Regions from separate parts of the Homo sapiens genome. Here regions 1 and 3 are each reported to be linked to region 2. The links are microRNA targets in miRTarBase. Many come from high-throughput screens and were not tested one by one. Region 2 holds a microRNA gene; each other region holds the end of a gene's coding sequence.
Evidence for each region. The annotated mature microRNA hsa-miR-30d-5p reads UGUAAACAUCCCCGACUGGAAG and lies in region 2 at 1,352-1,373, shown strand. An mRNA with a match to its seed (bases 2 to 7 or 8) in the 3' UTR can be bound and repressed. Matches are read on the target gene's strand: a 7mer-m8 pairs with bases 2 to 8, a 7mer-A1 pairs with bases 2 to 7 and ends in A, and an 8mer does both.

Region 1 (4,251 bases), not on the chromosome of region 2:
AATCTGCTTTCTTTGTTTCATTGGGGAAAAACCTGACTCTGTTTCTTACAGTTTCAGCAAGAAAAACATCTGCCAGCCAGTGACCCGGAAAACCTTCATGAAAAACAACTTTGAACACATCCAGCACATTATCATTGATGACGCTCAGAATTTCCGTACTGAAGATGGGGACTGGTATGGGAAAGCAAAGTTCATCACTCAGACAGCAAGGGATGGCCCAGGAGTTCTCTGGATCTTTCTGGACTACTTTCAGACCTATCACTTGAGTTGCAGTGGCCTCCCCCCTCCCTCAGACCAGTATCCAAGAGAAGAGATCAACAGAGTGGTCCGCAATGCAGGTCCAATAGCTAATTACCTACAACAAGTAATGCAGGAAGCCCGACAAAATCCTCCACCTAACCTCCCCCCTGGGTCCCTGGTGATGCTCTATGAACCTAAATGGGCTCAAGGTGTCCCAGGCAACTTAGAGATTATTGAAGACTTGAACTTGGAGGAGATACTGATCTATGTAGCGAATAAATGCCGTTTTCTCTTGCGGAATGGTTATTCTCCGAAGGATATTGCTGTGCTTTTCACCAAAGCAAGTGAAGTGGAAAAATATAAAGACAGGCTTCTAACAGCAATGAGGAAGAGAAAACTGTCTCAGCTCCATGAGGAGTCTGATCTGTTACTACAGATCGGTGATGCGTCGGATGTTCTAACCGATCACATTGTGTTGGACAGTGTCTGTCGATTTTCAGGCCTGGAAAGAAATATCGTGTTTGGAATCAATCCAGGAGTAGCCCCACCGGCTGGGGCCTACAATCTTCTGCTCTGTTTGGCTTCTAGGGCAAAAAGACATCTGTATATTCTGAAGGCTTCTGTGTGACAGGAAACCCAAGCCTAAGAAACAATTAAGTGGTTCTCATCTCTAATTAACTGTGAAACCATTTAATCCAAACATGTAAGCACACACTCACTTATTAAGTCACATACTTTTCTAGGTGCTGGGGATTGAGAACGAATCGATGTAAGATTCCTCCTTTAGGGCAGAGACAGACCACTGACAAATACACAGATAGACAAGGAATTTCCCATGGTAAAAAGGGATATCAGTAATTAGAGGACCGTGAGACTCAGAGATGTGTGTGTGTGTGTGTGTGTGTGTGTGTGTGTGTGCGCGCGCGCACGTGCACATGTGTGTAGGTAGATGGAGGGGGTGATTATTTTGGGTGGTCAGGGAAGTGCTCAGTGAGGGAAGAACTTGTCATGAGAATCTCTGAGCGTGCCAGGCAGACTCGGATATTTTTATAAATTTTTAACATGGCCACTTGCAGAAGAGCTTGAATGGGACGTGCAGCGAGAATGTGAAGGATGGAGCAGGTAGCTCATCTGGCCTTGTAGGTGCCGGGAACGGGCAAGACATGTTTTGAAATGTAAGATCACAGACTGTTTTTTGCAAGACCACATTATATTACTTTATTATTTTCTGCTTTTTCTTTTAACGACATTAGTGTTTTTGATCACTATATTTTAAAATGCTTTTTGTGAGCCTTTTGGTTATGTGGAATCTGTTCCTTAGCTCTGATTTTTTATTCTTATGGAGCGTCTTAGGTTACTACATGAAGGTAAGACTGCCACAGTCCCCCAGGGAGGCACACTGTGTTTTACTGATTGATTTGAAGATGATAGAGAGCCTAGGGGGATGAGTCTATTGGACTCAAAGGTTACATTTTGTTTTTCCATTTAATTTAATAATCAACAAAACGACAAAGTCAGTTTAATATCTTTCTTCTGCTGAGTCTTCAGGATGTTAGCTAGTCTTTCAAAAGCCATTGCTACAAAAGTGCAAATTTCTCATTTCCTGTGGGTCTCTAGAAACTCTCTCAATATTTAAAGCCAAACAAATCCATCTTTTCTGAGAGACAGAAACTAAAAAATTCAGAGTTAATTCACTATTAAAAACAGCAAGGCCCTGCTATTTCCCAAGAATAAAGAAATTTAAAATTCTCATTGTAAGAAGTATGAACTTGAAGCTAGAATTGGTTTATTTCTGGCAGCTACTTACAATATTAAGAACTTTACTTTTTAAATTTGAGACAATTTCACAGGAAAGCAAGAAATTAGTCTATTGTGAAATGTTTTTACAACTAACTTGGAATATACTGCAAATCACTAGTAAGTAGAGACACATTTAAGATAAAATGATTAATAAAACAATTGGTAATTCTGAATAAGGATCTGAATAAATCCAGATCACAGACTGTTCCTTTACCAATATGTAAAAGAATGTGCAAAATTAGTAAAAATATACCCAAAAATTTACCAGCAACAGAGAAGCAAAGAATGGAGTTCAACCTTACACTATAAACATCTAATAGATATGTATGAAAATTTAAAAACTAGAAAAGGTTGGGCATGGTGGCTCATGCTTGTGATCCCAGGACTTTAGGAGGCCAAGGTGGGAGGATTGTTTGAGCCCAGGAGTTCAAGACCAGCTTGAGCAATATAGTGAGACCCTGTCTCTACAAAAACAAACAAACAAACAAACAAATAAATAAATAAATAAAATTAGCTGGGAATGGTGATGCACACCTGGAGTCCTAGCTACTCAGAAGGCTGAGGCAGGACGATCACTTGACCTCAGAAGTCTGAGGTTACAGTGAGCTATGATCATACCAGTGCACTCCAGTCTGGGTGACAGAACAAGACCCTGTCTCCAAAAATTAAATAAATAAAACAAAAAAAAAGAATTTAAAAGTTTTATATAAAGGCATAGCTACTATCTCATCTGCCCAGTGTAGTCATGAATAGATGTCACATAAAGAAAAGAAAACCAGAATTCTTGTTAATATGGCCAGTTTGAAGGGTGGTGGCGGAGGTATTGAGCAGGCAGCTCAGGGAAATGCCAGGGAGACCCTTGAGCACAGAAACTCCTGATTGTCCCCAGGGACTCTCCGTGGACACAGGAGGGATTTTCCAGGATTTCACATGAATTCAATGAAGGGGGCTGTGTCTTATTCCTGGATGCTTTGCCTCCTTCATGGAATTCAGTGGATTTAATGGAAGTTCCTAGGCAACAATAAAGAGTAGAAACCAGGTTAACAGCGAGGGCCTCATCTCACACCAGATCATATCAGGCTACACAAAAGTAGATGGAAGACACCACCCAGGCCTCCAGCTATACACTGGAGAAGAAGCCAAACTAGTCTACTTCATCTAAGAAAGTTGTCAAAGAGAGCCCTTCTATACTATCTTAAGGTAAAAAGAAAGACTCTACCCAGCTGCCCTGATTAAGCATTAGAAAGATAAGTGTTCTGATCATTAGGCGAAAGACAATGGGGAAAAATGTAGAAAAGAAATATGACATGAGCCAGATGAAGAACCCATCCTGAAAGGATATATAACTCAGGGGACAAAAGACAACTCACCATAAGTTGGGCGCAGTGGATCACGCCTGTAATCTCAGCATTTTGGTAGGCCAAGGCAGGTGGATCACCTGAGGTCAGGAGTTCAAGTCCAGCCTGGCCAACGTGGTGAAATCCTGTCTCTACTAAAAATACAAAAATTAGCTGGGTGTGGTGGTGCATGCCTGTAATACCAGCTACTCAGAAGGCTGAGGCAAGAGAATTGCTTGAATCAAGGAGGCAGAGGTTACAGTGAGCCAAGATCAGGCCATTGTACTTCAGCCTGGGCGACAAAGTGAGACCCTGTCTCAAAAAACAAACAAAGCCTCCCCATAGATGTCTCCTGCCATAGAAGAATTTAAGAAGTTCATAAATTCAATAAAACAAGAGTTGAAGGCCTGTCCCACTGTACCCAATTTCTCCCTCTCTGAACTGCAGCCTAGAAACTCTCTACAGGCAGTAAGCTGGGGCAGTCACAGAGGTGACCTCATCTGTTTCCCACATCCTGCATTAGGACAGTGATCAGGGATCAGTATCCTTCATTGACTGATTTCCAATATCTCGAGACCTGTTGTTTCATATATTTTGCCTTATTTTGCAATTGTTTCATATATTTTGTCTTATTTTGCAATTGTTTCAGGAGGGAGGATAAATATGGTCCCTGTTCCTCTATCTTGACCAGAAGCATCTAAGAAGGCAGTGAAGCAACATGTGTACAGTTCTTAGGGAAACAAATTTTGACCTAAAAATATTAAACCTAGTCAAAATATTATTCTAGTACAAAGGCAGCACATGGGTATTTTTGAACATAAAAGAGTTCTAGAAATACAGGACCCATGAATCATTCTTGAAGAAAAGTTACTCA
Region 2 (4,251 bases):
TATTTCAGAGAGCAACCGTTAAATATTATCACAGGGTAAATATCAGCAACTGAAATCCTTTTCTCATAGTTTCTCAAAAAATTTGGTATTAGGAAATTAATAGTCTCTCAGAATTTGTATATTGGTTTTCTTCAGTAGTTATTCTGTAGAGTGTGTGTGTACATATGCATGCTCATGTATGTATGTATGTTCATTTCTTAAATCATTTCATAAATCACTGTGACTTAATTGTGGACTTTAATTGTTTTCATAGTTTTTTTCCCCAAAAGAAGGTTACTTTACATATTTTATTTTATTTTTATTTTTATTTTTTTTGAGACAGGGTCTCACTCTGTCGCCCAGGCTGCAGTGCAGTGGCATGAGCTCAGCTCACTGCAGCCTCCACCTCCCAAGCTCAGGGATCCTCTTACCTCAGCCTCCCGAATAGCTGGGACCGCATGCACCACCACACCCAGCTAATATGTTGTATGTTTTTAGAGGTAGGGTTTTGCCACTTAGCCCAAGGCTGGTCTTGAACTCCGGGACTCAAGCGATCTACCCATCCACCTGCCTCGGCCTCCCAAAGTGCTGTGATTATAGACATGAGCCACTGTGCCTGGCAATTTTACATATTTTAAATTAAAGCAAATCTTGGTTTTTGATGGAATGCAGATTTACTTATATTTCACTTAGTCTTTTTCCTTTCTTTCAGAAAAGTGGTGTGGAAACAAAATGGTTTTAGTATATTGCCTTATAAACAAATTTAAGATCATGAGTTTCTTTTATTATCCTCTTTGTTTTGCTCATTTCCTTGAACTGTACATCCCTAACCTAAATCAGCTGGAGACAGGGGAAGAAAGTGTTAGATTCTTACTCAGTTTAGATCCTCTGCCAGGAAAACCCACTCTATTCATTGTCAACTAAATTAACGCTTTTTTAAATAAAAGGAGTCATTTTTAACAATAACGTCAGGGCAGCAGGCATCCATGAAATGTATGGTCACTGATCATTAGGGTTATCATTCTAATGTGTTTACTATTTTGAAACTCTAGGGAGAAGAAAACTTATTTTTGCATATGTTGGAAAAATGTATCCTCATGTAGGATATCAGGGTAATATCTTTAATGTTTCATACTTACCAAGATAAATTTGTAATGCGTATTTTCTTTTAAAATTAGATTTATTTAGGAGAAATTGCACTTGGTGAACCACTTTCTCTTTAATTATTAGCATTAACTTTATCATTTTTGTTTCAAGATGTCACAGCTATTGTTCAGCACTAGAAATTATATAAATTATTAGCTGAAGATGATGACTGGCAACATTTATGTCTGTTCCTCCTCTTAAATTTCTTGTTCAGAAAGTCTGTTGTTGTAAACATCCCCGACTGGAAGCTGTAAGACACAGCTAAGCTTTCAGTCAGATGTTTGCTGCTACCGGCTATTCACAGACATCCTCTTGATATAATTCTGTCCCGGAGTGGAGTTGAGGAGGCTATAAAATGTGTGGGAAAACCTCAGAAATCTTTAGCTGCATTCTTTTACTGCACTGACAGTGCACGTATTATGATAGTTGAATGTAGGGTGCTCTCCTAATAACAGGATATGCCGTCTCGAGCTTCCCAGACTTAGCGTGCTGCTGCTGGGCCTTAGAGAATTTAGTTAAATAAAAAGTGTCACCGCCTATTCCTGTTTCTGCCCTGTCAATGAAATTTTAGTCTTTATAACCTTTCCAAGTAGGCTGGAGTTTAACATCCCAACAATTCAGGAGACTGATTTTCTCCATTGTAAATTCTGTGGAAGTTCTGGAGAATAATTTCATCACTACCACCCAGCAGTATGCAATCTAGAAATTTCAGCTTTCCCTATACTTAAAAGAGATGTGTGTGCAACATTTTTCTCCGTCCTCTTAGCCCCCCACTTCCTGTTCCCCTCACCCTGAGTGATATTACAGCTCCTAATCAGAACTCTCCTCTAAGAAAAACTGCAAGACGTCAAGCCACTAAGCCTGTTTACATTTGCTAATGGGTATGCATGTCTTTTTATATTAATATTTTTCCTAAGTATTTTCAGATTGTTGCTTTCAGATTTATTGCTTCCTCCTTAAAATATAGCTGCCCTGAAAGCAGCTGTATTGTATCTATTTTTTGTGTTTCCCCACAGATCTGAATAATCCAGGGCTTTTCTCACAGATGACACTCAGTGTGGACTAATTGATAATGTATAATTTTATAGCAACTATTTTCTGAGTTTTAAAAAATTGTTATTTTATTTCTGTTAGTCTTTCAGACACTGGAAAACATTTCTATTTTATTGGCATTTTTCTTTTCAATAAAGCATTGGTTTTTTTAAATCATTTATTTTTATTAAACTGCTAAACATACTATGTTAGGTTCCATACATGATTAAACCACCAAAAGATAAAGGTCTTGCCAATCTAATGTATTTACATGCTTATTTTCTTTGATTAGATTATAAGCTTTCTGAGGTCAGAGACATTAAATCTTGATAATTCTATTTTTTCCTGTTATAAACAGCAAGTAAAGCACCTTGCATGTATAGTACTTTAGTAATGATTTTATATTATCTTATTGCAGCAGTGTCTACTGTTGCCTCTTATCTTTTATCCAGATGAGCAAATGACAGTTTTGGTCATAATGTAGTTACCCCAGATGTATTTGTGCTACAGCTTTTATTTTTTAAATGCTCTTTTGTTAGAGTAGTAGTTTATAAGACTTATTTGGGGATGGGGGTCAGTTGCTTCAGACTCAGGTGGCTTTCCAACTTGTAAATACAATTTTCAGGCTGGATGATTAGCATGCATCAAGCATCCCTTCCTATGAACTCTAAATAAAGCAGATTTATTGCATATTCTGTGGCCCTCTGTTTTAGCACATTGGAAACCTTAGACTCAAATAGCAGTGAAAGGATAGTTATTGCTGAGCTCAGAAGTCTTCCCTGCCAAAGGTAGAATGTAATGTGTTCTGTGGTAATAGGATTATTTTGTTTGACCAGGTGACACTGTTTATTTCTTATGAAAAATTTTGATATACTGCTTTAAAATTTAGTAAGATGGATGCATAATTTATGCAGTGAAATTTGAAAGGTTTTTCAAAATGATAAGGCCAAACCTAAGCTAAATGAGGGGGTAGGCATTCTTTATAATAAAGCTGTTATACTCTGCCCAGCTAGGCCAGTTATCCCTAGATGCTACAGATTAATGGGGCAATCTGTGTTATGTAACATTTGTTCTATATTATTCTGCCTCTAATGAGGTGAATCAAAGACGATGTCAGTTTTAATTCTGGATGCCCTTGCTTCAGTATAGTATAATACATAGGTACAGCCTTTTTTAGTAGTTTTCAGATGGCTTCTTTATGTTTTTATATTGAAGAACCACTAACTTCCCATTGGCCTATAAGGTTAGCAATTGATTATTTATAGCAAATGGCTTGAAATGTTAGATCATCAGTATTTGTCAATAAGCCTGTAATAACTTGTTTCCCTAGCCCTTAACTTAGTGTTGAAGAAAAAAATTGTGGTATTCATTGATAGGACTTAGAAAGCACAGAAATTACTTATTATTTAAGATTTGTTCTACCAATTGATATTTAAAGTAAAACATTTTTAGTTACTGAACACCATTCTGTAAATGACAGTATTTTATCCTGAGTATATGGTCTGAAATGACTTAGGGACAACTTTTTAAAGCAAATAACTAATTACAAAATTGGGTCTTCCAATTTATTTCAAATTAGATGCTTTTGTACAAATATTCTTGGTTAGAAATAGTCATATAAATACACTGTTGGACTTGTTCTCATTGATCTCCACACCTCAGTTCCTTCTACATGAGTCATGGGCTTGAGGTTACCCAGAAATGGACTGTGAACCTATAAACCCCAGCATGCATGTGGTATTGCGTCGAGCATGTTCTGTGATTCCCTTCTACTCTTGTTACAGCTTTATTCATTGGATCAATGTGCATTATTTGCTGTGTGTGCTCAGGTAATATTTTTGTTTCTTTTTTTTAGTTTGAATATCAGTTTGGGCTTAGTTACTTTTTAAAATAAGGCTGTTTCAGATAGTCTCTGCCACACTTTGCCTAGCCTGGTTAATTGTGGGTGGACCCATGCTACATGTTTTGGCATTGCCTTTTTCTTATCTGTACCATATTACAAACTTCCTAGTAATTTGACATTCACTGCTGTCTTTGCTTTAGCTTTCCAACAGGTTTGGTGAAACAGTCCATTGCTGTTCAATATCAGCTTGC
Region 3 (4,251 bases), not on the chromosome of region 2:
TAGGAACCCTGATGGGGAGGCAGATCACAACCTGGGTCTTGTGCCTGGCATCTGAAGTGGGGGCAGTCTGGTGGGAATGAGCCCTCAACCTGTGGGATCTGACATTCTTTTGGGTGTAGTGTTAGAGCTGAGTTAAATTCTAAAACACCCAGTTGGTGTCTGCCAGAGAATCTGGTATCAGAAGTGTTATGCTGAATGGTGTGAGAGTAGAAAAAAACACTTGGGTTTTTCCCATCCCTAATGGCCTTTTAGATTCCCCAGGCAGTAAGTACTTTGGGGAGCCAGTGCTACTGTTAAGCATTTGTGGTGTCTTTTTGTATAGGCTTGGCAGAAAAAAAGTTGAGAATTATGTTCTAAGTGATACAGCAAACAATTAAGAAGTGCCAGTCATATTGCTATTTTGAAGTATGAAGGGAGATTCATTAAAAGAGCCATTTGTAAGCTTAAAGTAAGTTTGAAAGTGCACTTGAATTAATAGTCCTAGATTAATTTAAGCCCAGTGAACACTTGGACCAATCAGATAACAGAAATATTAGAATGTTTAACCATCCTACTGTTGATCATAATCTCTCATGCTAAATTCATGTGGCAAAATCATTTGTTTAAAAACACCACTATCGGCTGGGCACAGTGGCTCACGCCTATAAGCCCAGCACTTTGGGAGGCCGAGGCAGGCAGATCATGAGATCAGGAGTTTGAGACCAGTCTGGCCAACATAGAGAAACCCCATCTCTACTAAAAACACAAAAAATTAGCAGGGCGTGGTGGTGGGCGCCTGTAATCCCAGCTACTCAGGAGGCTGAGGCAGGAGAATGGTGTGAACCTGGGAGGCAGAGGTTGCAGTAAGCCAAGATTGTGCCATTGCACTCCAGCCCAGGTGACAGTGTGAGACTCCGTCTCAAAACAAACAAACAAACCAAAAAAACCACTATCTTTTCACAATGAGCTTTAATATTTCAGGCCACAGCCAGTTTGCTGTATTCAAAAACAAAGAAGCAAACAAACATTAATGATATAATATCATTTTGGTGATGAAAAACCTGTGTATTATTCTTTCATGTTCTAAGAATCATAACAAAATCTAAAATGTTGGAAAGTTATAAAAAATTTATTTTCACTCCCCCCAAATCTAACTAAATTTTATGTTAAGTAAACACAAAATTACCATAGAAATGTATATGACCTGAAAATTAAAAAAAAAAACACCGTCAGTCACAGAATGTTTTATTTTAAACTTACTGTAAAACTTTCAAATACAACACATGTGGCAAAGAAACAACAGTTCACACACAACATCTGCCACAATTCTCTTTGAACTGCCATTTCTATATTATGTGATATTTTACAATTTCTTTCAATTTCTTACATTCATGGTATTCTTAAAGGCAGCAATGTCAATTTTTCTGCTTTGAAAATAGTTCAGTTAATGTTCTGAAATTGCTTAACATGACATTTTCCTTTTAGTATTCTACTGCTGCCCACACTGACATAATTCAACATATTATTTATAAACTGTTGAGAGGTATACTGTACTTAATAAATCAACTCCCAACTCTAAGTTAACCTCAATCTAAAACAAGCATTTTCTTAAACCAGTATACTCAGCTACTTTTCTCAAAAATATTTCCATTCTGAAATAAGATTTTTTGTGAGATACAATAGTTTCATCTTTTATTCCTAACAGAACTCATGCCGTACTTTTTTTCTCAAAATATATTTGATATATTCTGTGCAAAATGTTAAGTTCTGTATAGGCATGTACCTTATATTGAAAAAGTTTATAAAACATAATTCCTAAAAACAACCTCAACATTAGACAATAGAGGAAGGAAAAACATCAGACAAAGCCTAAGTTTTCACATGAGAAACTAAGTATGTTCTTAAAGCTCCAGTATTACATTCCTTGAAAAAACTCAGAATGCACTTTGGTCATTATTAAACATATTTGAACATAGGCAAATAAAATGAAATGCTTTCTGTTGTTTTTCATAGAAAGAAAAAACATACTACACAATGAGGCTGAATTGAGGCTGATCAAAAGGAATGGTAAGAGCAAAGTGATATGACATGGCTCTGTTCTCCACACATTCCTGATTTTAAGATTATGATTTAGGGATTAGAACTGCACCAATCAAATAAATTATTTACAATTAATCGTCTTAAAGTTCTTAAAATATGGTAAAAATATGAGGATATTCCACATGATACACTTTGCACCAAGAAAATTCTAGATTGTTTCAAATAAATTTTTAGAAACCAGATGCCCAGTTTAAAAAAAATTGCAAAAACTGTTTCATGTTTCATGTAATTTCTAAAATACTCGATTGTACAAATATAACAACTTAAAATCAAGGCCCAATGTAAGACACTATCATATTTGCCCGATTTACCTAACACACCAACATGATAAGTTCTCATTGGACACTTGGCAAATTATTTGTTGGGGAGGTTAAAAGCATCTAAAATAGCCCTTATATAATGGGGGTGGGGTGGGGAGAATGCACCAGATAAGTTTAGAGGATAGAATTTGCAAGCTGAAGCTGTCTTTTCTGAAAATTTGGATACAGTTTTACAACTAGCAATTAGAGAAATATTTTATTGGTTCTTAGCCTTATTCTTCAGTTGTTCATTTCAGTGTGGTATGAATAGCCTACACTAGAGTGTACCATGGGGAGAAAATTATTTACTTGAGTAAACATAATGTACTTTAGTAATATCAGTAGGCACTTCACTTGTGAGATGAGTATATACCTCACTCAAAAGGATACCATATCATGCCCTAGTATACTATAACAGATCCCATATAAAGATACGCATTAAAAGTAACAATTTTAAAAAGTGCACATTTTGAGCATGCACAGTTGGAGCTGTGCAAACAGCCCAGTGTTTCAAATAAATACAAGTATTACTAGTTAATTTTTATCAAAATATCTTACAGTATGGTAACCATTTACAATTATTGCTCTATTACAAGTTTTATCATCAAAGAGCACTTGTTGACCTGTTATATAATACCGTATATATTAATACTGAAGGGTGCTTAAACTGTAACTTAATCAGTTTGGATCCTGGCATTGTTCCAAAATAATTCAAGAGAAACCCTGACTGGATCTTGATTTACCAAAGAAAATGTTTTATGTGTATAGCTGAGTTCAATGCAATATTCCAAAGTTAAAGAATTTTTCCTCAAGTAAGGCAAGTTCACGGCATTGATGGAGAAACGGTGCTGAGCAATGGCTTCTATTTTCACAATTTGTTATTTTGCCAATTATTTATGACCAATTACCAGGATCTCAAGTATCTGGATATCAGTTTCATCACCCTTTCAACAACTAAGTACATCAATGCTTAAAAATAAAAATATAAAGACTAAAATAAATGTAAAAAAAAGTGAACCAGTAAAATAAATATAAGAATTGCACAAGACAGTCTGATGTAAACACTTCAACTCCCTAGCTGAGACTCCTGAAGCAAAGAATCAGTGACAAGCTTTCAGGCAGCTTAGTCAGTACTCTTATTCTGGAAAAGAGGCTACATCTTCTTTTCTTTGAATTGTCATGACTTAATCTTCCATAGCTAGAAAAAAAAAAATAGAAGTGGTGACAAGCCAGTTTTAATATCAAAGCTTAAATTATATCATATAACACCATTTTTAAATTCAAATTTCATTCACAAACAAGTGCAGTTTCTAATATTTTAACTCCTTTATCCTTTTAAGAAGAACTCACCTTAAACACAAACAAAAATGTGAAAATCAGATTTCTATTGCTTTCTCTTGAGAAGTGGCTATATATATATATATATATATATATATATATATACACAGTACTTGTTTAATATGATTATCTTACACCTTCCTAACAGTTAGTTGTGCATATATTGGAAGATGTATGCATTGCTATACAGATAAATAATACAACTTTTGGCCAAAAATAGAAATAAGGCTTTTTTCTTTTTTATCACCTAAATTAAAGCTTTATTAGTAAAAATAAATACTTCTTGCTAGGCGCGGTGGCTCACACCTGCAATCCCAGCACTCTGGGAGGCCAAGGTGGGTGTATCACTTGAGGTCAGGAGTTCGAGACCAGCCTGGCTAACATGGTGAAACACTGTCTCTACTAAAAATACAAAAATTGGCCAGGCGTGGTGGTGCACACCTGTAGTCCCAGCTACTTGGGAGGCTGAGGCAGGAGAAATCCTTGAACCCGGGAGGCAGAGGTTGCAGTGAGCCAAGGTCGCGCAACTGCACAC

Region 1: the mRNA of SLFN5 is a reported target of hsa-miR-30d-5p. The part of its 3' UTR that is shown has no 7-base or 8-base seed match.
Region 3: miRTarBase lists PHTF2 as a target of hsa-miR-30d-5p. Seed matches in the 3' UTR shown: 8mer at 3,435-3,442 and 7mer-m8 at 2,692-2,698.

The regions. Positions count from the first base shown.
Region 1 is chr17:35,265,021-35,269,271 of GRCh38, forward strand. It overlaps SLFN5 (schlafen family member 5), which reads left to right. Exons shown (of 5, transcript NM_144975.4): 5 at 52-4,251. The coding sequence ends at 868. Among named protein-coding and RNA genes, the nearest start is that of SLFN5, 24 kb to the left of the region's middle.
Region 2 is chr8:134,802,041-134,806,291 of GRCh38, reverse strand. MIR30D (microRNA 30d) reads left to right here and starts at 1,347; the gene lies at 1,347-1,416. It also overlaps a transcript of ZFAT not described here.
Region 3 is chr7:77,954,183-77,958,433 of GRCh38, reverse strand. It overlaps PHTF2 (putative homeodomain transcription factor 2), which reads right to left. Exons shown (of 19, transcript NM_001395272.1): 19 at 1,209-3,576. The coding sequence ends at 3,556. Among named protein-coding and RNA genes, the nearest start is that of DDX3ILA1, 34 kb to the left of the region's middle.